4 linked regions of the Homo sapiens genome follow. The protein of the gene in region 1 purifies or fractionates together with the protein of each later gene. This does not show direct contact. Each region holds a gene or a part of one and is shown in the gene's direction. Other genes may lie near its edges. The genes, in order: PIP4K2A, PLCD3, ZRANB2 and MTMR1.

Region 1 (7,021 bases):
TTTACTGTAATGGGGGAGTTTGGGGAAAGACCAGGGGGGATGAGCAGTGGCTTCCCCTCTTCTCTGGGACCCAGAAAGCTGAACGCAGGAGCCCCATGCTGTTTCCACGAGGGGTTTGCCTCTATTTTTAAACAAACAGGTTTCTCCCACTTTGCTTAAATATTTGAGTGTAAGATTTGTGTGATTTCTCTTTTTTGAGCTCAAAACAATTGGGGAAGATATAGCTGGCCCTGGGGGATTCCTGTTGGGAAGGCAGCGAAGTGGGAGCTCTGGCCAGTTTGCTGGGCTGAGCGGGGTGCTGGCTGATGGAGAATTGCAGGCACCAGGAACCAGCTGGAGAGTGGGATAGCCCTGTGCCCAGGGGTCCTCTCCTCGTCTGTAAGGAATCGGGGCTTCTCATTCAGTTTCGAGACAGAACTCCTTCCCAGCAGGCTGAGGAGAAATGACTCTGCGGGGCTTAGCAAATTGATTTCATTTTTAGCCAGAACTTCAAGACCTGTGATTTTATCTGTTTGCCCTTTGCATGAGGACATCTGCTTCCTAAATTCTATCAGCATAGCCCAGAGGCTGCTCAGCCACTCTGCATTCCCCAGCGAGGTGGCACTGAGTCCTTCCAGAGCCAGGACCGTGAACCTTCCTGGACCCTGAGCCCAAGGTCGGAGTGGAACAGGATCCTGTGCAGAGCCAGCCAGCCACGGGGTCAGGGAGCCAGTTGGGTCCAGCCCGCAGATGGGCTGCCACTGTTTGCACTCAGCACAACCATCCACATCTTATGGCAACATTGGAACGTTGTGCTGAAGGTCTCAAATAAGAAAAGGGAAACAAAGAGAAATCGTGATCTGAAAAGTCAAAGAACTGGGCAGACAGGAGTAGCCAAACACACAGAGCTGGGTCTTGCCCCCACATTATGTTCTAGCCACGGCTGGAGGAGGAGAGGGAGGACAGGAATCCTGGATGTGTGGTGCTTCGTGGAAAGCACACGTGGAAAGCACCTTGTTGACCTGGACAGGACTGCATTACTCACCAGATGTGGACACAGTGCCTTTACTTTTACTTATTTACAACAGCGTAACAATCGCCTCCACAGAGCATGCTGAATTCCAGGGTGCTTTCCTGAACTACCACCAGAGACTCCGCTGGAAGCTACTTGGGAGATGCCTGGGTTTCCCCATTAGCCAGTCTTAATCATTGGGAGGAACTTGCTCTCTCTCCCAGTCTCTCTCCGCATCTCTTACTGGTCATGCTCCTTGCTATCTGGTGAAATCCAGCCACCCTGTGATAGATACACACCTCTCCGCATCCAGTGTGGCATTCCAGGGTAAACAGCCTGAGCTCTGAGCCAGCCTGAAGTGTGAGGCTACATTTTAGATAGAGAAACAGCCCAGGAGTGTAAGAGCATCGTGAAGGAGGCACCCGGCGCCTCTGCTGCCCCACCCCACAGCCTTCCCTCTGGGTGTCACCCGAGCTTGTCTCCTTTAAATGTTGGCTTTTATGTTTAAGGTGTGGCTGACTCACCCTGTTGCCTCTGTCCCCAGTTTCTGGCCCAGCTGAAGCTCATGGACTACAGTCTGCTGGTGGGAATTCATGATGTGGAGAGAGCCGAACAGGAGGAAGTGGAGTGTGAGGAGAACGATGGGGAGGAGGAGGGCGAGAGCGATGGCACCCACCCGGTGGGAACCCCCCCAGATAGCCCCGGGAATACACTGAACAGCTCACCACCCCTGGCTCCCGGGGAGTTCGATCCGAACATCGACGTCTATGGAATTAAGTGCCATGAAAGTAAGTTTGATTACTGTGGACCCTTTTTGCATGTGAAGTGGTTTGACTTTGGCCTTGTTATCTACCAGTAAGCACTACCCCAGTTATGAGGGTGCTGCCCGGCAGCACTCATCCTCCAAACTCCAAAGAAATGGATTTGGGGACAAGAGTATGTTAAAGCTAACCGTGATCTCAGTGCTGAAACATAAGGCGATCGGACCTTTGAATTCTGTGATGTTGAGGGAATACAGCAAAACCACGAACTATACTATACATGTACAACACACCTGTACATATGCACATACACACTGGCATACAACGTACGTGCACACACAACACAACATGCATGTACATATGCACACATACATGTTCACAAATAACATCAGAAATGCTTTAAAATATTAATACGTTTTTGCCTAGTTATCTTTTTTATCTAAGTCAAAAGCATCATGAGTCTAAGCTAGGCACATGCATGTGATCCTCTGTGACCCTTAGCTTGTCCTCTTGTCATTACCAACAGCCCTCTCCCTCTCAGGGGTGTGAAGGGTGTGTGAAGATGGGCCCTGTGGGTGGGGTGGGAATCTGATTTGCTGCTGAGTCTGGCTCTGCTGTCCTCCCCCATGGAAGGGCCTATGGCCCTCTTCCCTAGAGTCAGATAAATCTTAATCCACCGTATCCAGGTGATTGGGTGCACCAGTTATTTGAATATTACATCCTACCTTAGCAACTTATCCGTGACAATACCAAAATATTTTTGTGATAGGATAAAAACAGCTTCTTGGTTTTTGAATAATAAAAACTGTGGCTCATCAGTTGTTTTTTAATCTCAAATGGCATATCAGCTGAGGATCTGAGTTCTGTTTTGTTCTGTTTTGCTCACCAAAATGTTTTCTTCAACACAGAAAATTAGATAGTCAAATGTACTTTTCTTACTGTTCATATTTTTGGAAATGGATAGAAAACAGACACGGGCCGGGCGCAGTGGTTCATGCCTGTAATCCCAGCACTTTGGGAGGCCGCGGCAGGCAGATCACCTGAGGTCATGAGTTTGAGACCAGCCTGACCTACATGGAGAAACCCCATCTCTACTAAAAATATGAAATTAGCTGGGCATAGTGATGCATGCCTGTAATCCCGGCTACTCGGCAGGCTGAGGCAGGAGTCACTTGAACTCGGGAGGTGGAGGTTGCTGTGAGCCAAGATCGCACCATTGCACTCCAGCCTGGGCAACAAGAACAAAACTCTGTCTCAAAAAAAGAAAATAGACATTGGAGTGGATGTATGCCTTTATCCAGTTCTGATACTGTATCCAGTGAGAATTATGAACAGTTCTACCATTTGATGTAAAGGATTAGTGTACATAATTAGTTCTGTTTTATAGGGTATTTTTAAATAGCATATTTCTTCACACCAAAGCAATACACAATTATTAAAGAAAATGCAAATTAAAAAAAAAAAAAGACTCCGTTCCACCGTTGGATCTCCACTGTTGATACCCTGGTGTGATGATGTTTTTAGTTGTTAGGGTTGTTTCTTTTTAAATTGCAGGGGGACTGGGTCAGAGAGGCAAGCTGTGTGTTTAGTCAGGATCCGCAGGGGTGGTGTAGAGTTTGTCTCTGGACTCCTTCCATCCGCGTTCCATTGAATCCCCTCCCTCCAGGCTCACTTCTCCCTCCCTCCCTCCCTCAGCAGCAATGCTGGCACTGGTGTTGTCACATGTCCCACAGTCATTGCTCTCCTGTCTCTGCAGACTCGCCTAGGAAGGAGGTGTACTTCATGGCAATTATTGACATCCTTACTCATTATGATGCAAAAAAGAAAGCTGCCCATGCTGCAAAAACTGTTAAACATGGCGTGAGTATCTCCATTTTGTTTCCTTCTCTCTTTCTCTCCCTCTCTCTCTCTCTCTCTCCCTCTCTCTCTCTCTCTCTCTCTCTCCTGGCTCCTCTGTGTGACCTGTAACTCAGGGATCACTCCTTTCTGCCACTGAGCTGCTTTCTACTGAGCCATTCAAAGCCCTTTAGTGACGCTTGTTCCCTGGGGGCAAGTCATGTTCTGAGCGTAAGATACAGAACCCACAAACGCTTACTGCTCACTGCTGCTCTTACCACAGCTCCCTGTGGCTTCCAGCGAAGTCACTTAAACATGAACATCTCTTCTTTTTACACATGGCGGACACTAACAGGCATGCGCATCACTAGGATGTTACACAAATTCTTTTTTGTTTGAAAAATGTTCCAGAGATAAAAGTGCAAAAGAAGATAATGAAGTGTTCTAATATGAAATATTCAAAACTGAAGCATGATTGTCTGCTTAAGACACTTCCCAAGTATACAGGATTAATATTTCTTTTCTCACAGTGAGTTGTATTTTTTCTACTACAGAAATCTCTTGAGTGCAAAATCAAAGTTGCATAATATTACTCACCGTTAATGTTGCTTGATGGGAGTTTTCACTGCTCTAGCCATATGTTAAGCTATTTTATCCCCCATGAGAAGCCTATGAAAGAGATAGTAGTGTACCTGCTTTTGTCAGTTGGAGAAACTGAGGAAAATAGCTTCAGGAGTAACTTGCCAGGGCCTCATAGTAGCAAGTGGCAGAGATGAGATTCCTCCCCCGGACCCAGCCCCCTCCTGGCTCTGTGTTCATGCTCATCCCCTTGCCCTGCCTGCAAACACCTCCTGCCTGGCTGAACTTTACAGCTCGCCAAGTTTCAGGCTTGTATTGCAGGGTGCCATCTTTGTTTTGCAGAGGTCCTGAAAGCCATAGAGCCCACCCCACACAGATGAATGTATTCCCTGGTTTGTTGGCCCTGGAAGAAGAGGTGCTTCCCACAGACTGTGTAGAACTAATGAAGATTCACCAGAACCAAAAACTCACTTGAAACCTCTTCTTTTCTATTTTAAAATAGAAATCAGCCTAACAAACACAGTATTCTATTTGCCAAAGAAATATTTCAGTCACATTGTCGATAGCTATGGTATTCCTGCTGTGTGCAGAGCACAGACTGGGACCTCACCGCCCCCGAGCACGTCAGTAAGCAAGTGTGCCTGGTGGCTTCCCCCCAACAGAAATTTTTGAGTACTCTTTTTAAACAAACATCCGCACCAGGTGCACCACCCCCATTCCGTCATTTCTGAGGCCAGTTCAGGAGGGTGAGGGAGGGGTCTTCAGAAGACTCCATGGTCATTCTGATGCTCACCTCTGGTTGAAAACCATGGAGTGTGGCAAAGAGAGAACTGGCGAGGAATCCTCGTTTGACCCTTCCCACTTGTATGACCTCAAGGGGACACTTTTGGAGCTCCTGTTTTTTCACCTCATACAGAAATCCTACTGCCTTGCTGATGGGGTTTTGCCAGAGATACAAGAGTTGTCTGGACAAATGCTTTGTAAATGTCTGTTCCCATATTATACATCCTGTGAAATTGGAGTGTATCCTAGCCAATATGGCTCCATGTTCATCTCTCCTATCCTAGCCAATATGGCTCCATGTTCATCTCCCCATAAGCCACAAGTTCGCCTCCATAGTGTGCCACACGGCATAAAATCACAGGTAGTTTGCAAGAAGAAAACATTACTGTCAGCAAAGGAACGCTGTGTTAAGCTGCTGTGGGGGACCATTCTCTCTGCATTCAAGCCTGGGCTCCTCCATGCAGCCGAGGCCTGGAAATATTACAAGTTCCCCGGTGAACATGGGTGTCTAAAAACAGCACATGCTCACTTAGCAAAACTCCGTGCTTGCCCTTTGCAGCTCAGGAAACTGGCCAGTGAGTGACTCCCTTGAGTGTGCTGGCCTGCACCCTGCATCTCATCATGGAAAAATCCCTCACCGTGCTTCTGCAGGGGGCCAGGCTTGCTTGCTCTCTGCAGGGCTCAGAAAGGGGAACAGTGGCACCCCTGTGTGCTGCTGCAGAGGGAAGTCAGCTCCTTCCCCCGTGGGCAAGATGGAGCCAGCAGTGTTGTGCCTCACCTGGTTACGGTGCAGGGAATGGGCTGGGGGCAGCTGTCCCAGAACCTGTGGCTGCTGCTGTTGCCCCTCATGTTTGAGCACTGAGCTGGGGGCCTCTGTCCAGAAACGAAGGGGTCCTGAAGAAATCATGCGGTTTTAAGTCATCGTCATTAAGGTTTCCCTTTCGCCAAATGTTGATGTCATTCTCAAGGTGGCTCCAGTCTGCCTTCTTGAAAAGTATAACATAAGTATTGTTTCCGTGACTTCTGAACAATTCCACTCTTTGATAGTAACATCCCAAACGTGGCCTGTTTGATTTTTTTGTGAGTTGCAACAGCCCCGGTGTGTGTGGTAGCATCTGGTGCTCCTGTCGCCCTTTGTCTCATTTGCAGACACAGATTTGTAAGAACCTTGCTTATTCAACCATGAGCGCCAAGATATTTTGAGTGATGTTTTTCAGAGCAGAGACTGCATGGATTTGAAAATTGCTTGCTGTATATTCAGTTGCCATTGGAAATAGCTGTAGATATTGAGTAATAATTTGGGGAAATCATAAACACTATGTCAATATTTCCTTTTTTAAAAACTGCCCAGGCTGGCGCGGAGATCTCCACCGTGAACCCAGAACAGTATTCAAAGCGCTTTTTGGACTTTATTGGCCACATCTTGACGTAACCTCCTGCGCAGCCTCGGACAGACATGAACATTGGATGGACAGAGGTGGCTTCGGTGTAGGAAAAATGAAAACCAAACTCAGTGAAGTACTCATCTTGCAGGAAGCAAACCTCCTTGTTTACATCTTCAGGCCAAGATGACTGATTTGGGGGCTACTCGCTTTACAGCTACCTGATTTTCCCAGCATCGTTCTAGCTATTTCTGACTTTGTGTATATGTGTGTGTGTGTGTGTTGGGGGGGGGTGAGTGTGTGCGCGCGTGTGCATTTTAAAAGTCATAAATTAATTAAAACAGATCCACTTCGGTCAGTATGTGTCCCAACAAAGACCCTTTGATTCCAGCTATGGCCGAATGAATGAGTGAGTGAGTGAGTGAGTGAATGAACACACGTGTGGGGGAGGGGAGAAGGAAGTGCATGATGTCAGGCACCGTGTTGGCATCACACAACAAACTGTGGATCAGTTTTTTTTTTTTTTTTTTTTTTTTGGAGTTGAAAGATGTGAGACAGTATTCAGAATAATGAAGATAATAATGATGATTATTATAATAATGATGATGATTCCAAGGAAAAAACCTACAGCGAATGTTCCATTTCTACCCCGCACGCAGACACTCTCCCTAACACTGATAACCTGAGCC
Region 2 (7,021 bases), on another chromosome or scaffold:
TCATCCTCCACGTTGGCCCCCACAGCAGCTGAAGGGCCGGGTCCTGGTGAAGGGAAAGAAGTTGCCCGCTGCTCGGAGCGAGGATGGCCGGGCTCTGTCGGATCGGGAGGAGGAGGAGGAGGATGACGAGGAGGAAGAAGAGGAGGTGGAGGCTGCAGCGCAGAGGCGGCTGGTGAGAGCTGGGATGGGTGGGGTGGGGAAGGGGGGGAAGGTGGGAGGACGGATGTGGGAAGCGGGGGCCAGCTGAACCCCGCTGAGCCTGGTCTCCTAGGCCAAGCAGATCTCCCCGGAGCTGTCGGCCCTGGCTGTGTACTGCCACGCCACCCGCCTGCGGACCCTGCACCCTGCCCCCAACGCCCCACAACCCTGCCAGGTCAGCTCCCTCAGCGAGCGCAAAGCCAAGAAACTCATTCGGGAGGCAGGTAGGAGCTGGGGCACTGGGTGTCTGGGGGCGAGAGGGTGAGAGACCTCCTGAAGGGAGTCTGGAAAGGAGTTGAGGGGGCTTTGGGGGACAGTAAAGAGGTCAAGAGGACCCCAAAGAGGGGCTGGGCTGAGGGAATGAGGGCCCCGCACATGCCAGGGTGGATGGAGGGGAGTGGCACGCTGAGGGCGGCCTGCTGTCTGCCTTCAGAGCCCTGTGGTGGGGCCGGCCATAGAGGGTGATGGGTCAGGCTGGGCTGGGGGCTGGGGGAGCCCAGCAGCTGCTGCAACACTGGGGAGGAATTCCTGGGGCAGGTGATGCTGAGAGGACACATCACCTGGAGGACTAGGAAGCAGCCAGGTGAAGAGGGGAGAGCGCTTTCCAGACAGGAGGAACAGGTTGTTGAAGGCCTGGGGCCTTGGCCTGGAGAAGAATTCCAGGAACCACAGTGGAGCTGGAGGGCCGTGGGCATTCAGTGTACTTGGTTGGAACTTTGTCAGGAGCTGGGAATTGGGGGCTGGGGATGCAGGGCCAGGCTGTGTGGCTGGAGGGGGTCCCTGCAGCCTCCTCAGTGAGCTCCCCTCTCACTCTAGGTCAGAAGAGAGTGAGGAGCGGGGGCAGGGTGACCTGGGGACGGGCTTGGGCTCTGTTCCCTGGAGGTTACAGGCCGGGGCTTTGGGTGAGGGACCCCCGGAGTCTGTCACGGTCTCACCCCAACTCTGCCCCAGGGAACAGCTTTGTCAGGCACAATGCCCGCCAGCTGACCCGCGTGTACCCGCTGGGGCTGCGGATGAACTCAGCCAACTACAGTCCCCAGGAGATGTGGAACTCGGGCTGTCAGCTGGGTAAGTGGGGGCCACAGGAATGAGAGCAGGCGGGGTGCCACAGTGTGGGGGAGGCCTCAGCAGTGAGGGGCCCACACAGCCTTCCAGACGGTGGAAACACGCATTTTGTTGATTATTTTTAAAGTTGCCAGCAATGTAGGTGGGAAAATCAAATCAGGCTCGTTTGTTCTTGACAGTGTACAGGTCTCGCATTTTTATCATGGTAGAAATTAAAATCTCCACTCCCATGTCCCCCGGACACACACAACCCCCACACACCTGGCAGTCCCACTAAGTCAACACTGACAAGGGTGGGCTCTGGGGGACGCTGAGCCCCACCAAAGGAGGGCTGTATCGTCTCCTTGGGGTAAGGATGGAAACCCCAGGCTTCCTCAGACCCCTGGCTCTGACCCAAGCCTGGCCCTGAGGGTGGGGGCTTTTTTAGTACCTCCCACCCCAGTCTTGAGGGATCCCAGGGCAGAAGTACAGGTGACAGTGGGGGCTGGGTCCATGACCCCCTCCCCTAAAGTCATGGTGGGAGCAGAGCAGCACTAAGCAGACAGTGGGACCCCAGGCCCTTTGTAGAGAGGAATGCAGTCCCCTGAAACTGAGTAGTGAGAACAGGGCCGCTAAGAGCCCCTGCTCTGACCCTGCTGTGTCCACAGTGGCCTTGAACTTCCAGACGCCAGGCTACGAGATGGACCTCAATGCCGGGCGCTTCCTAGTCAATGGGCAGTGTGGCTACGTCCTAAAACCTGCCTGCCTGCGGCAACCTGACTCGACCTTTGACCCCGAGTACCCAGGACCTCCCAGAACCACTCTCAGCATCCAGGTCAGCAGGCTGGAACGGGCCCCAGTGTGGGGTCAGACTGGTTCTAGAAAGGCTCTTTGTGAGGTGGAGGAAGGCAAGGGAGGCTGGGGACATTTGGAAGTGAGGGTGGTGTGAGCTTGAGGCCCATGAGGGGATGGCCAAGGTGGGCGTGGGCCCCAGCCACTCCCTCCCTCACCCACAGGTGCTGACTGCACAGCAGCTGCCCAAGCTGAATGCCGAGAAGCCACACTCCATTGTGGACCCCCTGGTGCGCATTGAGATCCATGGGGTGCCCGCAGACTGTGCCCGGCAGGAGACTGACTACGTGCTCAACAATGGTGGGCAGCCACTGGCGGAAGTGGGGTTGGGGGAGACTGCAGAGAGCGAAGGGTGGTGCAGGGTGGGTCCTGGGGCCCCTGGGCTCTGACTGCCATCCCTGTGCCCTAGGCTTCAACCCCCGCTGGGGGCAGACCCTGCAGTTCCAGCTGCGGGCTCCGGAGCTGGCACTGGTCCGGTTTGTGGTGGAAGATTATGACGCCACCTCCCCCAATGACTTTGTGGGCCAGTTTACACTGCCTCTTAGCAGCCTAAAGCAAGGTTGGTGGAGGCTGGTGGGGATGGAGAGGGATGTGGGTCCAGGTCCTGCAGACCCTGTTCACCTTTGTGCCTCGAATTTCCTGCCCTGAAGCAGGCCCGGGCTGGGCCAGACCCCCAGGGTGCACAGAGGACCTGAGGCCTGGCTGTCCTCCCTACAGGGTACCGCCACATACACCTGCTTTCCAAGGACGGGGCCTCACTGTCACCAGCCACGCTCTTCATCCAAATCCGCATCCAGCGCTCCTGAGGGCCCACCTCACTCGCCTTGGGGTTCTGCGAGTGCCAGTCCACATCCCCTGCAGAGCCCTCTCCTCCTCTGGAGTCAGGTGGTGGGAGTACCAGCCCCCCAGCCCACCCACTTGGCCCACTCAGCCCATTCACCAGGCGCTGGTCTCACCTGGGTGCTGAGGGCTGCCTGGGCCCCTCCTGAAGAACAGAAAGGTGTTCATGTGACTTCAGTGAGCTCCAACCCTGGGGCCCTGAGATGGCCCCAGCTCCTCTTGTCCTCAGCCCACCCCTCATTGTGACTTATGAGGAGCAAGCCTGTTGCTGCCAGGAGACTTGGGGAGCAGGACACTTGTGGGCCCTCAGTTCCCCTCTGTCCTCCCGTGGGCCATCCCAGCCTCCTTCCCCCAGAGGAGCGCAGTCACTCCACTTGGCCCCGACCCCGAGCTTAGCCCCTAAGCCCTCCTTTACCCCAGGCCTTCCTGGACTCCTCCCTCCAGCTCCGGAACCTGAGCTCCCCTTCCCTTCTCAAAGCAAGAAGGGAGCGCTGAGGCATGAAGCCCTGGGGAAACTGGCAGTAGGTTTTGGTTTTTATTTTTTGAGACAGGGTCTCGCTCCGTCGCCCAGGCTGGAGTGCAATGTTGCAATCATGGCTCACTGCAGCTTTGAACTCCCAGGCTCAAGCGATCCTCCCATCTCAGCCTCCTGAGTAGCTGGGACTACAGGCACAGGCCACCAAACCTGGCTAATGTTTAAATTTTATGTAGAGATGGCGGGGGGGGCGGGGGTCTCCCTATGTTGCCCAGGCTGGTCTCGAGCTCCTGACCTCAAGTGATCCTCCTGCCCCAGCATTCCAAAGTGCTGGGATTACAGGTGTGAGCCACTGCCTGGCCTGGCCGTAGGTTTGTAACTGTTTCATAGAAGAGCCCTGGAGAAGACAGTAGAATGAGCCTATCTAGTTTAAAAAATAAAGAAGCACGTTGATTTCACCACCGCCACTCCCTGAGCACCTCTATGCTGCCACCCCCACAGGCCCATGAGGAGGGACAGGGCTGGATGAGTTTCTTGGGCCTCTCCCCTCAACAGGGCATGGACTTGGCTAAGACAGCCAGGGGGTGGCAGCAGGAGATGCCACAGCTCTAAATAGCCCGATCCCTGCTCCTGGCTTAAAGCTGCTGCGAGTATCACAAGACTGTCTGAGGATGCCAATTCAGCAGGTCAGCGCCTCCCCACAACACACACACACACACACACACACACACACTCACACATACACAGAGGGGCCTTGAATGAGGAGGAGACAGGAGTCTGAGGGACCCTCAGACTGCCACTCTCCAGGCTTGGCTGGGCTCAAGGCCCCTGTCTGCTCAGTAGGGCAAATCCCAAGGACACGGGCTTCCCTTCCTCCAGCCAGCCAGCCTTTTACACAAAGGCTGGAAACGCTGCTTGGGCCGCCTCTATAGAAATGCCAGGAGAGCGCACTGGACACTAGGCGACAGAATCTGGAGAAAATCCTGCACCCGCCCCTGCCAGCAGGGTGAAATGTGGAGGCCTGGTGTTTTAGGTTCTGCCAGCCAACAGTGCCGGCACTGGACAAGGGCAGAACTTGACATTAGTCCCCAGAGGGTGGCCTGGAACTGGGCTGGGATAGGCCTTGAACTGGCCCCAAGCCCCACAGAAACCAAAACACAGGGCTGGGGCAGACTCCACCTTCTAGCAACTCCAAGAACTAATGCAGAAAGTGGCAGTGTCCCCCGCTCCTTCATGCTGGGAGTGGCGTTTGGCTCTGGTTAATTTGTGTGTCTGAAAGAGGATAATCAGAATCAAAAGGGCCCAGAAGGAATGGGCCGAGCCAGGCGGGCCGGGCCAGGCAGCCCGGGCATCTGGCACTCAGGGCTGTCAGAGGGTCAGGCTGCCAAACTGCAGCCTCAGGATGGGAGGCACAGTGAGGCTAAGTCCAGTTTTAGCAAATGAAGAGCCATTAGCATTGCCCAGCCCCTGCAGAGCCAGGTCTGGCCAGGGGCTGGCTGGGGGGTCTGGGTCAGGTGAGCACCAGACCCAGGGCTGAGTGCCCATCCTGCTTGGCTTCTCTGGTTTCGTATCTGGTACCAAGAGGAAGGGGTGAAGGCTAGGATGAGGGCCCAATACTGAGAAGGCTGCCTTGAAAGGGCAAGAGTCTTTTTTTTTTTTCTTTTGAGACAAAGTCTTGCTCGTCCCCCAGGATGGAGTGCGATGGCGTGATCTCGGCTCACTGCAACCTCTGCCTCCCGGGTTCAAGCGATTCTCTTGCCTCAGCCTCCGGAGTAGCTGGGATTACAGGCGCCCGCCACCATACCCAGCTAATTTTTGTATTTTTAGTAGAGACGGGGTTTCACCATGTTGGCCAGGCTGGTCTCGAACTCCTGACCTCAGGTGATCCACCCGCCTTGACCTCCCAAAGTGCTGGGATTACAGGCGTGAGCCACTGCACCCAGCCAAAAGGGCAAGAGTCTTTAAGGAAGTGAACTGGGAAGCAGAAGCAAGGGAGAAATCACAGGGTTTTTTTTTTGTTTGTTTTTTTGAGATGGAGTCTCGCTCTGTCGCCTAGGCTAGAGTGCAGTGGCACGACCTTGGCTCACTGCAAGCTCCGCCTCCCGGGTTCACACCATTCTCCTGCCTCAGCTTCCCAAGTAGCTGGGACTACAGGCGCCCACCACCATGCCCGGCTAATTTTTTTGTGTTTTTAGTAGAGACAGGGTTTCATAGTGTTAGCCAGGATGGTCTCGATCTCCTGACCTCGTGATCCACCCGCCTCGCCCTCCCAAAGTGCTGGGATTACAGGCGTGAGCCACCATGCCCAGCCTGAAATCACAGCTTTTTATCCCAGAGGCCCATGGGTAGAAACAACACATAGGGCTATGTTCTCTCAGCCCAAAGCTAAGGGCAGGAAAAAAGGCATGGGCCATAGGAGCCTGAGTGACTTGGTTTGGGACAGGAGGGTTGGGGGGCTTTAGAGGGGTCAGGCAGGTCCTGTGTCCTCTCAGTTTCCCTGGAAAGGGGCTTGGAGGCACCAGTCATGGACCTGAAAGGATCAGGGGGTCAGGGAATGGGTAAGTTCCAGAGGATGAGAAGAGGGGGAATGGGAAGTCTTAAACACAGCTACTGGGGCCCAGCAACTTGCCATGTTAAAATGCACCCCTAGTGACTCAAAGAACCACCCGGCCAGTGGTGCAGGAGGAGAGATGTGGCACCTGGGCACAGTGGGAAGGCACGGGGCCTGCACCTCCACCAGAGGAGCCACTGCTGACCTGGACCAAGGGGGCTGCTCTGTGCCCAGCTAGGGAAGCCTGGGCCGGCTCCTGTGCTGAGGTGCTCAGGTGCTGGCTGAGAGCCCAGTTGCTGCTCTAACTTGGAGTGAACCTGGGTCAATAGCAGCTCGTCTCTGGCGGGTGGGAAGGGTCTGACAACACCAAGTTTGCCCTGGAAGAAGGGCAGCCTTAAAGGAAGGCCTTTGGAAGCTGGCCTGGTGCTGTGGGCTTGAGGGACTTTGTGTCCAAGCCCTGTCGTCCTGGCTCCAGCCTAGGCTCCAGCACTCCATTTCTTCCACTGCCACCTGCTGACCAGGAATACCAGGACAGAAGGTTTTGTTCAGCTGCTTTCTTTATTAGAAACAAGTGAGATGTATTGAGCAGAACAACAATGCATTTGGTATTTCCTCCCCGACCCTGGAAATGGATGCCCCCCCACAGCCCAAAGAAAAGCCAAGACAAAAAGGTGAAGCTCCCCCGTCCCTGTTCCCAGACATGGCACCTGCCTGCCAGCCAGTCAGTATTTTTTAATTTAATGGAATGAAATTGTCCTCAACAGCCTCCGTAGGTGTAGTCGGCTTGCAGGCCCGCCTTCATTTTGCAGCAGAGTAAAACTGAAGCCTCAGGCCTCCCCTGGTTCTGGGGAAGGTGGGCCAGGCCATCAGAAGGCTGCCTCACAGGTGGGTAGGCACTGACGGGAGGGACACTCCTGCTCCCTCCCCTGATCTAACATCTGGTTCCCCTCCTTCTCCTAGAGTGCAGCTCCATGCAGTTGTCCAAGGCCTTTGGGCCCTTAGGTTGGTTAAATGCTGGTCGTCTTTGGGGAAAGAATTCAGGACCACAGGGACTCCCCTAG
Region 3 (7,957 bases), on another chromosome or scaffold:
TTCAAGTGCTCTCCACTAGAGGTGGTTCCTTGGTCTGACCAGTCAGGGAAGAGCCCACATACTGGCTCACACAGTCAGCTCCAGACCAAGGATGCATGGGGGGACAGTGGTAGCCCAGAGCACTGAACTCATCCTGTGTCTGATATTAGTGAAAATCACCCTCAAACCACTGAAAAAGCATCATTCTGGTGGCCCAAACTTGTGCGATGAAAGAAATAATGCCATGAAAGAAATAATGCCCCAGCCAGTGGGAGCTTTGGCCCTCCAAGTTGCTCTCCAGGAACTGGCAGGGCCATCTGGCCCTAAGCCACCCTACAGGTGCTAGTACCAGAGATCCTGCTGCACTGGTGGACCCTGAGCATGTTAAGAGGGCAATATGGTCAGGAGGGCCTGAAGGGAAGAAACAAAGAAGCCAATAACATTTTCTTTAGGCTTAGGACTGTCCCACCCAACAGGTCCTGCTGACCTGGCTGGTCCCCACCACCAAAAGCAATAGAACATCTCAGGACTTCCACTGTCCAGGACCCACATAGTACTACATTTTGGCTCCATCCTGCTGAATGGTCCAAGACACTCGAGGGGAATTAGGGCACCTCAAGGAAGGCCAGGTGCAGGACCAGGCTAGGAGCCCTGGTTGCCCAGGTCTAAGGGCAGTATTGCTTTTTTTTTTTTTTTCAGTCTTCTGAACTAGGTAACAGAAAAGCTAGTCTGAGGAAAGAATAACGCATATGCAGAACAAATTCAGCAAAGAGACAGAGAAAGGGTGCTGCTTGAATAGAGGATAGTTTCTTTTAGGATATTTCTGAAACTGCATTCCTGCTCTGGCATTCCATCAAACACCACCTTCTCTTTATAATATGCTCCCCCTTTTTGTTGTTTAAGTCATTTTATTTTTATTTTTGTTACTTGCAAGCAGAGTGAGCCCTAATGCAATATTTAGAGCCAGATTCTTAGCTTTGTAGGTTCAGAAACTCAACTTTACCATTTCCACCAGAGCTAATCTCCTGGGGACCAACATATTAAGAGGACCCATAAACAACTGATATGCATTTCAGAGTGCCAATTTCTCAATCTATAAAGAGAGCTTAATCCAGATGAACAACTTGTGTGGATAAATTCACTCTGGGAATTTCACCACAGTAGGTTAAGTGTGCTCAGGAGAGAAGACAAATTATCAGAGGGCTGTTTGGTGAGCATATAATAAGAATAAAGAGAATGGGTAGAATTTTTCTTTCAAATTAGGATAGCTGAAATGAATTTCTTTTGTAGGAATATTTCTCTTTGAAAAATCAGCTAAAGTCCTTGAACTCAAATAACCTCTTCTGGTCATTATCAGATGTATTCACGCATTTTGTTCATTATCCTAGACTTACTATAGAGGATTTTTCTCTTGACACATAATTCTCCCAGAAAAATTTTGCTAATTACAGTTAGTACAGTTGATTAACTGTTGTTGCATTAACTGCATGTCATCTACCAGCTTTGGCATCTATTATTCCTATTGACCCCATGAAGTCACTATCTCCTCTCTACTCCCAAGGGTGATCACTATCCAAGATTAGTTTGGCTGCTTTTGAACTTCATGTAAATGGAGTCATATAGCATATGCCATTTTGTGTCTTGCTTTTTTCAATTCAAGACTGTATTTGTGAGTGAAATACTGTTCAATAATCTGAGTGTAATTTGTTATTCTTGCTACTGTATTACACATTCCAACTGTGTAAACATATGACAATTTATTTATCTAGGCTACCACTGATAAGCAATTGGGAAGCTTCCAGTTTGGGCTATTTTGAATAGTACAGCTCTGAACATTACTATATACATCTTCAGTGAACATTATGTGCATTCCTGTTGGTAATATACCTAAAAATGGAATTTCAGGGTCATAGTGTACGAAAATGTTCAGATTTAATATATTCCGACATTTTCCAAAGTAGATGTATCAATTACTTTTTGCAATGTATGAGAATTACAGTTGCTCTACATGCTTTCCAACACTTAGTATTCTCTGATTTTTCATTTTAGTCAGTTTGATGAATGCATAATGGTATCATATGGTTTTAATTTGCATTCCCCTGACTTGCAGTACCAACCAAGACATAGAAAGCCCACAATAACCTATCTTTCCTAATGATTACAGTGAGAAACTCAAGACAAAATACCAAAAGCAACTGCCTGAAGACTCTGGAAAAACAAAAACAAAAACAGGTAAATTGGAGTGGAGAATGAAAACCTGGAGAAATGTTCTGTATGTTTGCTTTTCCTCTTTTCTCACAGCTTTTGACCTAAGGCCCAACACCTAGTGAAACTGTGGTGACAGGAAAAACCGACAGAAACCTGTATGTCTTGCCAGAATGGGGATAGGGGGCTTTTGTGAGCCAAAAGTTAGTCGGGGGAATACTTAGCTCCCCCTCTTCTGGTTTTTCTTTCTTTTTTTTAATTTCTCTCTCTCTCTCTCTCTCTCTCTCTCTCTCTGGGCATTGGCCCAAGAGTGAGGCCCTAGGCTTGGGTATCTACAATACTAACAGAAGCTCTGTTTTTATGGACAAAGGAAGTAGAAAAGGAGGCCTTTGTGGTCTGAAGAGTGTAGAGGGAATCCACATTTTTTCTCTCTCTTTTCTGTCACTGCTTTGTCTCAGAATCTGCCCTAGTCAGCTGCTATGCCAGGCTGCTAAAACTCCAAGAGGAACCTCATATTTCTGGTGAGAGGACCTTGCGAGACAAAAGGAGAAGAATGTAAGAGGAGAGAGCTAGAGAAGAGGATCCCCTAATTCTATGTATGAACCTATACAAGTTCTGTGTTCACACCTAAACTGAACACGTGCAGAACAAACACAAAATAGCATAGCAAAACTGAATTTCAATTTAAACTACTGCTAACATCCCCAAATAATCCCTGAGTATTGTAGGTATAGGACACAGCAAAGCCTTTGAAAACCCAGCTGACATGGAACCAGTACTCATAGAAGATGAGACCGAACTTTTGACCTGAACCAAATTGGATCGATTGCCTTCTAAAACAAAAAAAAATCAACATTCCCTAAAGGCTTTTAACAGGACTCAGTCTATGCAACATAATGTTCAAAATGTCCTAGATAAAATCCACAATTACACAGTATAAAAGAACTGGAAAAATGTGACCAACTTGCAAGGGAAAATATAATCAACACCTGCTAACTCCTAGATGACCAAAATGTTATAATACAGATTTTAAAGCAACAATCATAACTAGAGAGTAGTTGAACAATTTCTCTCCTAAACATAATCATACTTGCATAAAGACATTTCAGTCAATGATGAACCACATATACAAAGGTGGTCCCATAAGATTACAATACCATATTTTTACTGTACCTTTATATTTAGATACACAAATACCACTGCGTTACAACTGCCTACAGTATTTAGTACAATAAGATGTACTAAATGCAGGTTTGTAGTCTAGGAGCAATAGGCTATACCATATAGCCTAGGTGTGTAGTAGGCTATACCTGCTAGGCCTGTGTAAGCACATTCTATGATGTTCACACAACAGCACAATTGCCGAAAGTGGCATTTCTCAGAACATATCCCTATCATTAAGTGAGGCATGACTGTATATGCTGTATTCTAAAAAAAATTAATGCATTTATATACCAGAATCTATGCATAAGAATGCTCATACTGGTGTTGTTTGTAATACCAAGCCTGAGAAACAGAAGGAATAAACTGTCACAAAACCACAAAACGGAATAGTATCAGTATACATCAGTGCAAATAAAAGAATTACACCTATACACTTCTACATGCAACTACCTAGGATTAATTTAGAAGCATAATGAACAAAAAAAGAGTACAGAATCAACTATGCTTACACAGCTCATAAAATTAAACATACATGTATGTTAGGTTTTGAAGGGAAGGCAAGGATTAAAGAAAGAGAGGGTGGCTTAACAACAAATACAGGATTTATGTCCAGCATAAGACCTACAGAGGTGGGAGACCAGCTTAATGCCAGTGCCCGTTGCTTCTTACAGGCTGGGGTGATTTATAGGCCTGGGTGGGAGTGGTCTGGGGGGCCATGGCCTGCTTCCTGGGAACATGTTGATAAGGTGTTCCCAGGACGAGGCGGCTCTGGCCCTTGTTCCAGTGGAATGTGGTACTTTCTCCCAGCAGAGTATAAGAGGCAGCCTGTTTCTCACGCCCGAACCCCGTGGAATGTTTCACTTTGACTAAGGTCTGCAAAATGGCAGGGGGGCTTACAAAAATGGTGCAGTTTGGACTAACAACGTACATAAATTTTTAAAAAGCAAAAGAATAAATCCCAAATATGGGAAAGTGTTATCTGTGGAAGAAAGTAATGGGATGGTATCAGAAAAGACACTGGTAATTTAAACAGTGTTGACAATGTCTCAGTTTTAAAATTACCAGCTGGTTCCCATGTATAAGTTGCTTACTTATCTGTTACACCTATTTATGTATATATAAAAATAGGTTTCCAAACGACATCCCATGTGTATGAAATAACAGAATTTTTATGCCTTATTAAAATAATTTCTCTAAACACTTGAAGAGCCCGAGCCGCCTCTTACCCTAAACGAACCCCACGCCCCTGAATTGATCAGTCACTTCCGCCTCCACCTTTCCAGCTCCACCTAAGGAAGCGGAAGTACTTTACTCTTGGGTCCTCCCACCTGTAGGGGGCTCTCCGAGGCTTCTAGTGCCACGAAGGCCTCCTGCCTGGGTTGTCCTTATGGCGCCTGTGAGTTTAGTTCTAGAAAAGATATTTGTATTTTAACTTTTCCATCTAACAAACAGTAGCACAGGCATCTTAGTCTGGACAACAACGTACAAGCTGAATTCCTGGCTAGTTCCCTCATTATCAAACCCTGACACAGTAGTAGGCGCGAGTCAGGCAGTGTGGGGACAGCCCCGAGTTGCCGAAAGTCCCCGGCCCGTTTTCCTCCTGTGAAGACATAGCTGCGGGTGGCTGTGCTGGTGGCGTTCAAGATGTCGACCAAGAATTTCCGAGTCAGTGACGGGGACTGGATTTGCCCTGACAAAAAGTGAGTTCAAGAAGGGTCCTGAATTGGGACGGAGTTTGTTAGTGGAAGCTTTCCGAGGTCCGTCCGGCATTTTCCTTTTTTATGATTTTCTGTGCCTTAAGACGGGTTGAGGCGGCGAACCGCCAGTTCCCTGGCGGGAAGAAGGCTCCCAATCTCCTCACGAGAGAGGTCTTTCCGGGAGCCTTTGTTCTAGATATGTCTTCAGCGTTTCCTCGACATTACCTCCGCAAGGTAGCCTCTCTTTTTAGAGTGCGAGATGGCCTACCTTTTTGCCCCCACCCCCCTCCCCCGCCCCGGCCAGGTTTTAGCGATAGGAAACCTCTCCAGTCAGGCCAGCTTGGTGTTGGATCTCCCCCACGTGACTTTTCTCTGCAGAACTTTACTCTTGTTCACGGAAAATATTGCTTTCTCGCACTCGTCCTTTTGCCTCTTATAGTTCACCTTGTTTTGTATTTTTACTCAAACTTTTCCTCCATACTATTTTCCCCTTTTCCGGAAGCTCTACCCTCTTCGGTTTGGGAAATTCTGACATTTTCTTTGTGGATCATTTCTCCACAAGAATTGGGCTTTTCGCCTCCTTAGAGCCGAAAAGGAGGGAAGAGGCCTGTGTTTTTGCCTACTCAGCCCTTAAGATGCCTGCAGCAGAGAAGCACGTGTGTTAGTGGCTCTGCTTTTTGACATTGTTGCCAAAGCCAGTACTCGACTAGATAGTTAATCAGATTTTTTTTGAAGGGTGCACAAATAGGTGTATCTATTCGGAAATAACATGGAAAATAATTTAATGTACAACTCATGTTCACATAAAAGCCTTTTATTTGTTGTACCTAAGTTAGCCACAAATAGGTTTTGATTGTAAAAAGCAAAAACTTTGAAATAAACCTGGGTTTAGTTAAAATTCTATTACTTATTTAACTGCTAAAAAAGGAATAGAATTTTTTTTTTAATGAAAACATGAAATAACATGGATAGGGTGTGTAAACAGTGACGTGTAGCAAATTCTAATTGGTGGCTATTGATAGTAATTTGATATTAAGATGACCTGAAGGAGTAGTTCAAGCCTAACAAATGATACTGAATAGAACCAAAGTTATATGTTATGGATAGTATTGCTCTGAGTGGTAAGACATTATTGAAAACGTTCAAAAGATTTAGAACAACAACTTCTGACTTTGTTGTTACCTGTAAAATAATGTGCTTTTGTCAGTGTCTTTAATGACAGCACACCCAGAGGTAGGACTCTCAATGAGAGTTCATTTCAACTCATTTACAAATATATGAATAGAATGTTGTTTGTACAATATGTTTAAATGCAGGATAAATTTTCAGAGTATATTTTCCATGCTTAATGGAGTTAAAAGGAATATTTTTAGGGGAAAAACTTAACCTAAATATTATTTAGAGTGTTTCACTTTAGTGTCATCCCATACTTCACATCTGTATTGTATTCTAGTATAATGCCTTAAAAATCAGCTTTTTAAAGTTTAAGCATTCCATGTTATCCAGAGCATTTAACATACTTTTACCAATATACACGTACACTTCTAAGGTCATGTGAGTGAACCAGTAATTCTTTAGGTTTGAGTTTGTTGAGTATAAGCATAAAGTCTTACTGTACTACATGTGTTGAGATTATTGGTTTTGGTGGTTGTGTCATTTTTTTCAGCGAAGTCTCAGAGGTTTGAGAAATGCCCTGTAAAACTCAGTTTTCTTACAATTATTGAATCTTTTTGTATTTTTAGTCAGTACAACCTATCATATTTGGTTCCTTAGCATCCTACCTACTGCATGTAAAAAGATAATTTCATTAAGATCCATGAAGCCCTCCTTGATTTATAAGTTTTTTTCCTCATTGGTCCACCGCTAGGGTTTAAAACTCCCTGGTAGCTTGTAAGTAATTAGTGAAGTGGAGTTAACTCTCACTTTCAACTTTGTAAAGGGATTATAACTAATGATATGTGCTAATGTGAGGACTTGAGGCAGAGATCCTAAGTAACTTAATCAAGATCACATGACTGGTAAATGGAGGATTGGGATATCTTATTCTGAATTTGTGGCTCCAATCAAGTATTTTTCCCCCAGTAAATTGTGTGGAGTTTTTTGTTGGTAACATTGACATTAACATGACTAAGATGGATTAGAAGTTATGAATTCCAGATATGTAGTGAGGACAAGTTAAAATGTAAAATTTTACAAATTTAAATTTTTATAAATGCTTTTTAATCTGTTTTTAGATGTGGAAATGTAAACTTTGCTAGAAGAACCAGCTGTAATCGATGTGGTCGGGGTAAGTATTTAAAGAAGATTCTATTTATACTGTATATGTATCATTTATTTATTTCTCCAGGTTCATATTGCATGATTTTTCTGTTTTCAGAGAAAACAACTGAGGCCAAGATGATGAAAGCTGGGGGCACTGAAATAGGAAAGACACTTGCAGAAAAGAGCCGAGGCCTATTTAGTGCTAATGACTGGCAATGTAAAACGTATGTTTTTTAAATTATTGTCTGCTCTTTCTTCCAAAATAATAGATCTGGCCACTACTTGTTTATATTACAGCTCTTATTAGTGACATTGACAAGCCAGGGTAACCTTTTAAATCCAAGGTATTGTTATTCAGTCTCATCTTTAAGTATAGTATAAAGAAGTTTTAAATTATTCTTTGCATTTTTTAATGGTAATAGTTGTCACTATGATGGATTATGTATACCAGTAAACAAATGCTTATGGTAAGCTCAAAACCAATCGGGGGGTGGTGGTACTTAAAAGTACTAAGGCCTATTACTTCCTTTATTGAAAAATCCCAATTTTTAGACTGTATAGTTAGTGTGAAATACACCACAAAACTCATTTTGCCTGTTTACAAAATAATGTTAGATTCATAAGTTGTGTGCCGTAAGTAATTAAGTCTA
Region 4 (6,988 bases), on another chromosome or scaffold:
CAAAAGGAGGGGAAATAGGTACCACCTGTTTTTGTTTTGTTTTGTTTCGTTTTGTTTGAGACGGAGTCTCGCACTGTCGCCCAGGCTGGAGTGCAGTGGCAGGATCTCAGCTCACTGCAACCTCTGCCTCCTGGGTTCAAGCGATTCTCCTACCTCAGCCTCCCAAGTAGCTGGGATTATAGGCATGTGCCACCACGCCCGGCTAATTTTTGTATTTTTAGTAGAGATGGGCTTTCGCCACGTTGGCCAGGCTGGTCTTGAACTCCTGACCTCAGGTGATCTGCCCACCTCGGCCTCCCAAAGTGCTAGGATTACAGGCGTGAGCCACCACGCCCAGCCGATACCACCTCTTAATGTAAGAGTGGCAAGGTTGCACTGCAGAACAGCATGCCACCCTGTAGAGACTGGGGTTCAGGATGCAGATCCAAGATATTGCTGTGGCTGCTGATTTTGCTGTGAATAATAAACTGTCTTTGTTTCGGATCCAGAGGCTTTATATTTTCTCTCAGAGTGTTAGAGTGTGGTGATCAACTAAATTTTCAGCTTGCTAGTAGGGTAAAATCTTAGATTATAACAGCTTCTGACCTACTACTGTGGAGTACCCTCCTTGGAGTGTGGCTGTGATTTGTGCATGGATTCCTATAGCTGAATGGGGAAGGGAGCTGAGCAGGTAGGGGATTACTTCTCTGGATCATTCATCAAGAGCAATGCTTGGGTGCTCTATTGCTGCACAAAAAATCACCCCAAAACCTAGTGGCTTAAAACCATAATTCATTAGTTTTCAAAAATCTGTGAGTCAATTGTATGATTCATCAGCTTCATGTGGTGTTGGCTAGGCCACCAGAATGACTGAAAGGCTTGAAATGGCCTCACTCACATAGCTGGCAGTTAGTGCTGGCTTCTGGCCATGCTGCCTGGGGAACTCAGCTAGGGCTATTGGCTGAGAGCTTTGGTTCTCTTCCATATGGGCCTCTCCCTGTGGCTGCTTGGGCTTCCTCAGAGTATGGCAGCTGACTTCCAAGAAGGAGTATGCACAGAAAGCAAACTGGAAGTTGCAAATCCCTTAAGGGTTAGCCTTGGAAATTATACAGCATCACCTCTGCTACATTCTATTGGTCAAAGGGGTTACAGGGCCAGTCCACATTCAAGGAGAAGGTAAACAGAATCCACCTCTTGATGTATGAGTGGTAAGATCACCTTGCAAAAGAGTGTGTGGGATGGGGGATATTATTGCAGCAGTCTTTGGAAGCACAATCTATCAAATGGACGTAGATGGGGGACTATACAATAGTATTTCTCCAAGTGCAGCAAGCCCCGCATCAGAATCATGGGAGCATTTGCTGAAAATGCAGACTGGGGCTGATTCTTGCACACTAACATTTGAGATCTGGTGAGCTGCAGAACAAAGCCCAAACTTCTTGGCCTACCACCAGTCCAGATCCTCACTTATCTTGTCTGACTTTATGCTCCAGTAACACTCGATTTCTTGGCATTCTCTTGCACATAATAAGCTATTTAACCTACAGATAGAGTTTGGATGTTTGTGCCGTCCAAATCTCATGTTGAAATGTGAGCCCTAATGTTGGAGTTGGGGCTGAGTAAGGGGTGTCTGGGTTGCAAACTGGATTGTGAACATCCTGAAGGTGGACCCCTCAGGAAAGGCTTTGTGCCCTCCCCGTGGTAATGAGTGAATCCTCGTTCTATGAGTTCATGCAAGAGCTGGTCGTTTGAAAGAGTCTGGTGCCTCCCTCACCTTTCACTTGCTCCTTCTCTCACCATTTGACATGCCTGTTTCCTCTTCGCCTTCCACCATGATTGTAAGCTTGCTGAGGCCCTTACCAGAAGCAGATGCCAGCACAATGCTTCTTGTACGGTCTGCAGAACTGTGAGCCAAAATAAACTTCTTTTCTTTATAAATTACCAGGTCTCTGGTATTCCTTTACAGCAAAGCAAAACAGATTAATATACCTACTAATCCACACCTTTGCCCATAACTGTGCCTTCTGCCTGGAATAACTTGACTCCTTTGCCTCATCAAGGATTTACTCATCTTTAAAGATTCAGTTTTATGTCACCTTTTTGGGGAAGTTTTCCTGACCTCCTCTTCTCCTATGGATTGGGGTAGGTGTTCCACATCCTGTGCAATTGTCCCCATTATAGCACTTGCCAACTTGTAATGTCATTGTTAATTTGTCTGTCCCCTTCACTGGATTGTGAACATCTTAGGCAGGGATATGTCAGATTCATCTCTGTCCTCTAAATCCTAAGTGTACTTAACTGAATTGGAAGTATGACAGTGTCACAGTGAATTCCTCTTTGGCCTAATGTTTCTTAAAGAATATGGTACTTAAAATATGCTTAAAGTTGCACTGTTTTCTTTCTGACAATTCTCAGCACAGCTAAGATGCTTGCAGCTACTTGTAACAAAATACCCAACTAAAAGTGGGTGTCTTAGTGTGCTTAGGCTGCCAAAACAAAATACCATAGACTGGGTGGCTTAAACAACAGAAATTTTCTCACAACTCTGGAGGCTGGAAAGTCCAAGATTAAGTGTCCAGCAGGGACCTAGTAAGGGCTCTGTTCCTGGCTTGCAGATGGCCACCTTCTTGCTGTGTACTCACACGGCCTTTTCTCAGTGTGTGCATGTGAGTGCATGAGATCAAGCTCTCTGGTGACCCTTCTTAAAAAGCACCAGTTCCATCAGACTAGAGCTTGGCCCTCATGACCTAATTGCCTCTCAAAGACCCCATCTCCAAATACCATCACACAGGGAATTAGGGCTTCAACATATGGACTTCAGGGGGATGAAAACATTCAGTCCATAACAGTGGGTTAACCATTTGATTTAATAATTTTAGAAAGCCAGCAACCTGCAGTCGGTGATTCTCCAGTGTGAGATAGGAGCTATTATTGTCTGGGGATCTTCCTTTCCTTCCTCCTAGCCCTCCTCACTCTGTCATCTTCTTACCCCAGGCTCACCTCCTCTTGTGCGTAAGATGGCTGTCGGGGCTTCAGGCATCATATCCTCAAAGTTCAGTTTGAAGTTATTAAGCTGGTGGGGCAGGATGGGTCTGGGATGGGCATGAGTAACTCCCTGTCTGCAGATCTGCCTTTTAACAGTGAGCAAATTGTTCCCTTTATATCTTCTTTTCCAGACCTGGGTCGCAGGCCTCCTGTCTACACCCAGAGCAATCACAGGCAAAGAGGCTTAATCACGAGCCACACACCCACTCCCAACTTAATCAGGGGTGAGGTGAGAGGGGATGAGCTGTTGGATATTCGAACCCAAACAAAATGAGCAAGGAAATAAATCTAGCCCAGAAAGCAAATGTCCTAAATGCCTCACCAAGATATTGGCTTGATGTTCATAGCAGTGATTTTTTAATCAACAGAAGTTAAATGTTACTCTTAACATAAACCATGGGCGGAAGCTCCGAGGGCGGCATCAGAACACTTGGTTGCCCTACAGATGGCAAGGGGGTGGGTTTGTGGCGGGGCGGCGGGGTGCGTATGGAGGGGGAGAGTGGAGGGAAGAATGGGGTGGGGAGGAATTGCTAAAATGCACGGAATTGCTCCTGCTTCAAGATGTCAAGACCGAGGGAGCTTGAGCTGTTCTATACCTTTTCCGGGAAGGACAACTGAGGTGGGAAATCATTTTTGATACTTGAATGTCTTCAAACTTCTTTTTACACCCCACGTCTCTGCAGTCAACCCGGTGTGACTATAGAGTGAAGCACGCTACGCATAATCCGTTTGGGGATTCCGAACCCCAGTGGCTCTGTACGCACCCAGGTCGCTGGAGCAGGAGGTCCCAGATCCCCGCTGTAAGGCTCCGTGGGCGAGCGCCCAGGTGGGGCTGGGCGAGGTGGGGGTTCCCGGCGCCGGCCCCGCGCGCCGCCCTCCCCGCCCCCGCTCCCGCCCCCCGACCCCCGCGCGCGCGGCCTTGTGGGTAACGCGGGGCCGCCAGGTGACAGCTAATGGCGGCGGCCGCCTGAGGCGGGCGGGCGGTATAGAGCGGGCGGCAGGAGGCAAGCAGCGAAACCTTCCCGGCCGCCGCTCCCGTCCCGACGGCGGCTTCCCCAAGGCGGCAGGACTCGGCGCGCCATGGACAGGCCGGCGGCGGCGGCGGCGGCGGGCTGCGAGGGCGGCGGGGGCCCGAACCCGGGGCCGGCGGGCGGCAGGAGGCCTCCTCGGGCCGCGGGGGGCGCCACCGCCGGCTCCCGGCAGCCCAGCGTGGAGACCCTGGACAGGTAAGCGGGGCCCGGGCTGCCCCGGCCTCCCGCGCCCCGACTCCCGAGGGCCCCGCGCGAGGCCAGCCCGCCCCCTCCCCGCGCGCTGCGCAGGGCCTGGCGGTGGCGGGGTGGGCGGCCCCTCTTCATCCCCTCTGGGCCCTCCTCCCCCCCACCCCCGGAAACCTCAGCGCCCCATCCGGGGACTGCTGCCCTCGGACCTGCTGCGGGCCGCGCACCTGGCTCACTTCCGCCCCGAGAGCCCCAGCTCCTGGAACCCCGGGAGGGGCTTCGCAGCTGTCAAACCACTTCCGGCGCCGCCACCTGCTGCCCTTGGCGATCGCTTGGCTGTCCCTGCCCAGGCCACCAATCCTCTTGGGAGGGAGATCCCACCCGGGCTCTCCTCTTCTAGCATCACCTTGCCTCGTGTGGTTTTAAGACCCCAATTCTGCTGTGGCTGCTTAGGGTCTTTGATGGGGGGTTGGGAGTGAGGACGGGGAGATGGGACCCCGCGGGCGTGGGAGCTGGTGCAGATCGAGGCAAAAATCTGAGATGGAAAACGTCCAAACTGCTCAGGAGGCAAGAAAACAGAACCATTTACTTTCAGTTCTTCACACTTTGAGGGAACCAGTTTATTGTTTTCATGAACACACAAGCAAGCCTACTGCTTCTGAGGCAGCTGCAGAACTAAGAGAAATCAGTTAGAAACATAAAGTGACCGTGTCGAACTGGGAGGGGCCACCGCCTCCTCCGACGACAAGAGATGGCCTATCGTGTAACCCGGAACATCCAGTTTTCCCACAACTTGGCCATTTCCCTGACACCAGAGTGCACTCAGGCAGCATGCACTGTTGGAATGTAGCTCAGTCAGTTTTACATGCCCATTCCTGCCTGTCTTGGTCATCCCATTGTGCCAAACTTTTGGGAGTTTCCAAAAGCACAGAAACAAGAAACATTCCCTTCACTTTTGTTTCTACCTCAGTGTAATTACAATATATTTTAATAAATTAATCACCCAAGTGGTTAGTGTCACTGAAAACCAGTCACAGCTAAGACAGCACTTGAAATGGTGAGGACTTCACTCATCTGCAAATATTCAACCACACACGAGGTCTGGGCGATTCAGAGAATAGCACAACACGGCTTTTGCTGCCTTACCATTTTGCTAGACTTACCATCTAGTGGAGAATACAAACCAACCAACAGTGGAAATCGAATGTGATAAATGAGATAGGTGGTAGAGGCGAACACAGAAGTACTCAGGATGGGCATGCATCAGAATCATTTAAGAAGCCAAAGGAGACCAGAATGTGTCACCCCCAAATATGCCTCATCTTCTGGTTTCCTTCAGAGATTTTGATGATCAGGGAAAGCCTGAGAAAGCTGACATTTGAGTAATGCCCCCAAAGAGGCGAGGGATCCAGCCATACAGATACCTGGGGGTGATAGTATTCTAGTCAGAGGCCTGTGCAAAGCCCCTGAGGTGAATGTGAGCCAAGTGTTCCTAGATCAGCGAGGAGACTAGGTGTCACTAGCAGGGAGGGAGCTAGGGAGAGACAAGTAAGGGATGACGTTAGAGAAGTCACAGAGCCAGATGGTGGAGAGCCTCAGAGGCCATGGGGAGCCACTGGGGACTTTGTGCAGAGGAGTGACATCATCTGTTGTAGATTTCAGTAGGCTCTCCATGGTGCTATGTGGACAATAGAGTGAAAGGGGAAGGAGCTGAAGCAGAGACTGTCAGTAGGAGGCTATTGTAGTAAGCCAAGTGAGATGGTGGTCCAGAGTGGAGCGGAGGAGGGGAGAAGTGGTCAGATACTACATGTAATTTGAAGACCTGCAGGGTAGAGCCAATGGGGTTTGCTGAAGATTGGTTGGTTGGTATGAGAGAAGAATCTGGGAGAATTCCAAAATTTTAGCTTGTGGGAAAATTGTGTTGCTGAGATGGAGAAGTCTTTCTAAGGTGGAGCAGGGTTAGAAAATAGCAGGCTCTTCGCTCTGGACATATCAATTTTGAGATGCCAATTATATGTCCCAGAATAGATGTCAAAGATATAGTTGATCTATCTGAGCCTGGAGTTCAGGGTTGTCTGGGCTGGAGATTCAAACTGGGGAGTCATGGGCTTATAGATGAGGCTTAAATTCATGAGGCAGGTGGAGTTCACAGAAGAATGATGGAGGTCTGGAAAAGGGAATTGGGCTAGGAATAGGGCTGGGTGGATTTTCAAGATGCTTACCAGGTAAGAGTGACCCGACATGGTGAGCATTCAGATGTGAGGGGGGAGTGCCGGGTGGACTCCAAGGCAAACCTCAGCTTTCTAGCGTGTGGGGGCCGGATAACTGGCTGTGCTGCGCCCTGAGTTAGGAAACACAGGAGCAGAGTAGGTTGCGGGGCTGAGCGGCTGATGCTGGTTTAGACAGGTTGAATTGGCAGGGTCTCTGGGCCAGACTAGTGGACAGGTCTTGTAGGAACATCAGCATTGAGATCAGGAGAGTCCAGGTTGGAGAAACAGAGCTGGGAGCCTCCAGCCTGTAAGTAGTTATTGACACCAGGAGTATAGAGGGCAATTGCACAGACTACAGAGAAGGGATGGGGGAGGAATCATGGCCTCCTTTCTCAGTTCTGTCAGCTCAACAAGCTCAGATTCACACTTTTCTTTGAAGAGTGACCTCTAGAATGGAACCTGGCTCTATGGGTGGGACTTGGCCATGTCCCTGGGACTATGGGGCCTTCACTTCTCTTCTGAATACTGTAATTAATA

The links.
Region 2: the proteins of PIP4K2A (region 1) and PLCD3 purify together in Homo sapiens (co-immunoprecipitation; 3 studies listed by BioGRID and IntAct, with this or other methods). This does not show direct contact.
Region 3: the proteins of PIP4K2A (region 1) and ZRANB2 purify together in Homo sapiens (affinity purification with mass spectrometry; 4 studies listed by BioGRID and IntAct, with this or other methods). This does not show direct contact.
Region 4: the proteins of PIP4K2A (region 1) and MTMR1 purify together in Homo sapiens (co-immunoprecipitation; 3 studies listed by BioGRID and IntAct, with this or other methods). This does not show direct contact.

The regions. Positions count from the first base shown.
Region 1 is NC_000010.11:22,536,562-22,543,582, reverse strand, and holds part of PIP4K2A (phosphatidylinositol 5-phosphate 4-kinase type-2 alpha), read left to right. Parts: intron 1-1,535; coding exon 1,536-1,779; intron 1,780-3,508; coding exon 3,509-3,612; intron 3,613-6,301; coding exon 6,302-6,382; 3' UTR 6,383-7,021. UniProt on the Homo sapiens protein: Catalyzes the phosphorylation of phosphatidylinositol 5-phosphate (PtdIns5P) on the fourth hydroxyl of the myo-inositol ring, to form phosphatidylinositol 4,5-bisphosphate (PtdIns(4,5)P2). Has both ATP- and GTP-dependent kinase activities.
Region 2 is NC_000017.11:45,108,495-45,115,515, reverse strand, and holds the end of PLCD3 (1-phosphatidylinositol 4,5-bisphosphate phosphodiesterase delta-3), read left to right. Parts: exon of another isoform or gene 1-7; intron 8-25; coding exon 26-172; intron 173-271; coding exon 272-422; intron 423-1,014; coding exon of another isoform or gene 1,015-1,149; coding exon 1,150-1,266; intron 1,267-1,910; coding exon 1,911-2,077; intron 2,078-2,258; coding exon 2,259-2,394; intron 2,395-2,503; coding exon 2,504-2,653; intron 2,654-2,811; coding exon 2,812-2,900; 3' UTR 2,901-6,557; downstream 6,558-7,021. UniProt on the Homo sapiens protein: Hydrolyzes the phosphatidylinositol 4,5-bisphosphate (PIP2) to generate 2 second messenger molecules diacylglycerol (DAG) and inositol 1,4,5-trisphosphate (IP3).
Region 3 is NC_000001.11:71,078,031-71,085,987, reverse strand, and holds the start of ZRANB2 (zinc finger Ran-binding domain-containing protein 2), read left to right. Parts: upstream 1-4,952; 5' UTR 4,953-4,992; coding exon 4,993-5,048; intron 5,049-7,279; coding exon 7,280-7,332; intron 7,333-7,422; coding exon 7,423-7,531; intron 7,532-7,957. UniProt on the Homo sapiens protein: Splice factor required for alternative splicing of TRA2B/SFRS10 transcripts. Binds to ssRNA containing the consensus sequence 5'-AGGUAA-3'. May interfere with constitutive 5'-splice site selection.
Region 4 is NC_000023.11:150,689,427-150,696,414, forward strand, and holds the start of MTMR1 (phosphatidylinositol-3-phosphate phosphatase MTMR1), read left to right. Parts: upstream 1-3,969; 5' UTR 3,970-4,104; coding exon 4,105-4,250; intron 4,251-6,988. UniProt on the Homo sapiens protein: Lipid phosphatase that specifically dephosphorylates the D-3 position of phosphatidylinositol 3-phosphate, generating phosphatidylinositol. Could also dephosphorylate phosphatidylinositol 3,5-bisphosphate to produce phosphatidylinositol 5-phosphate.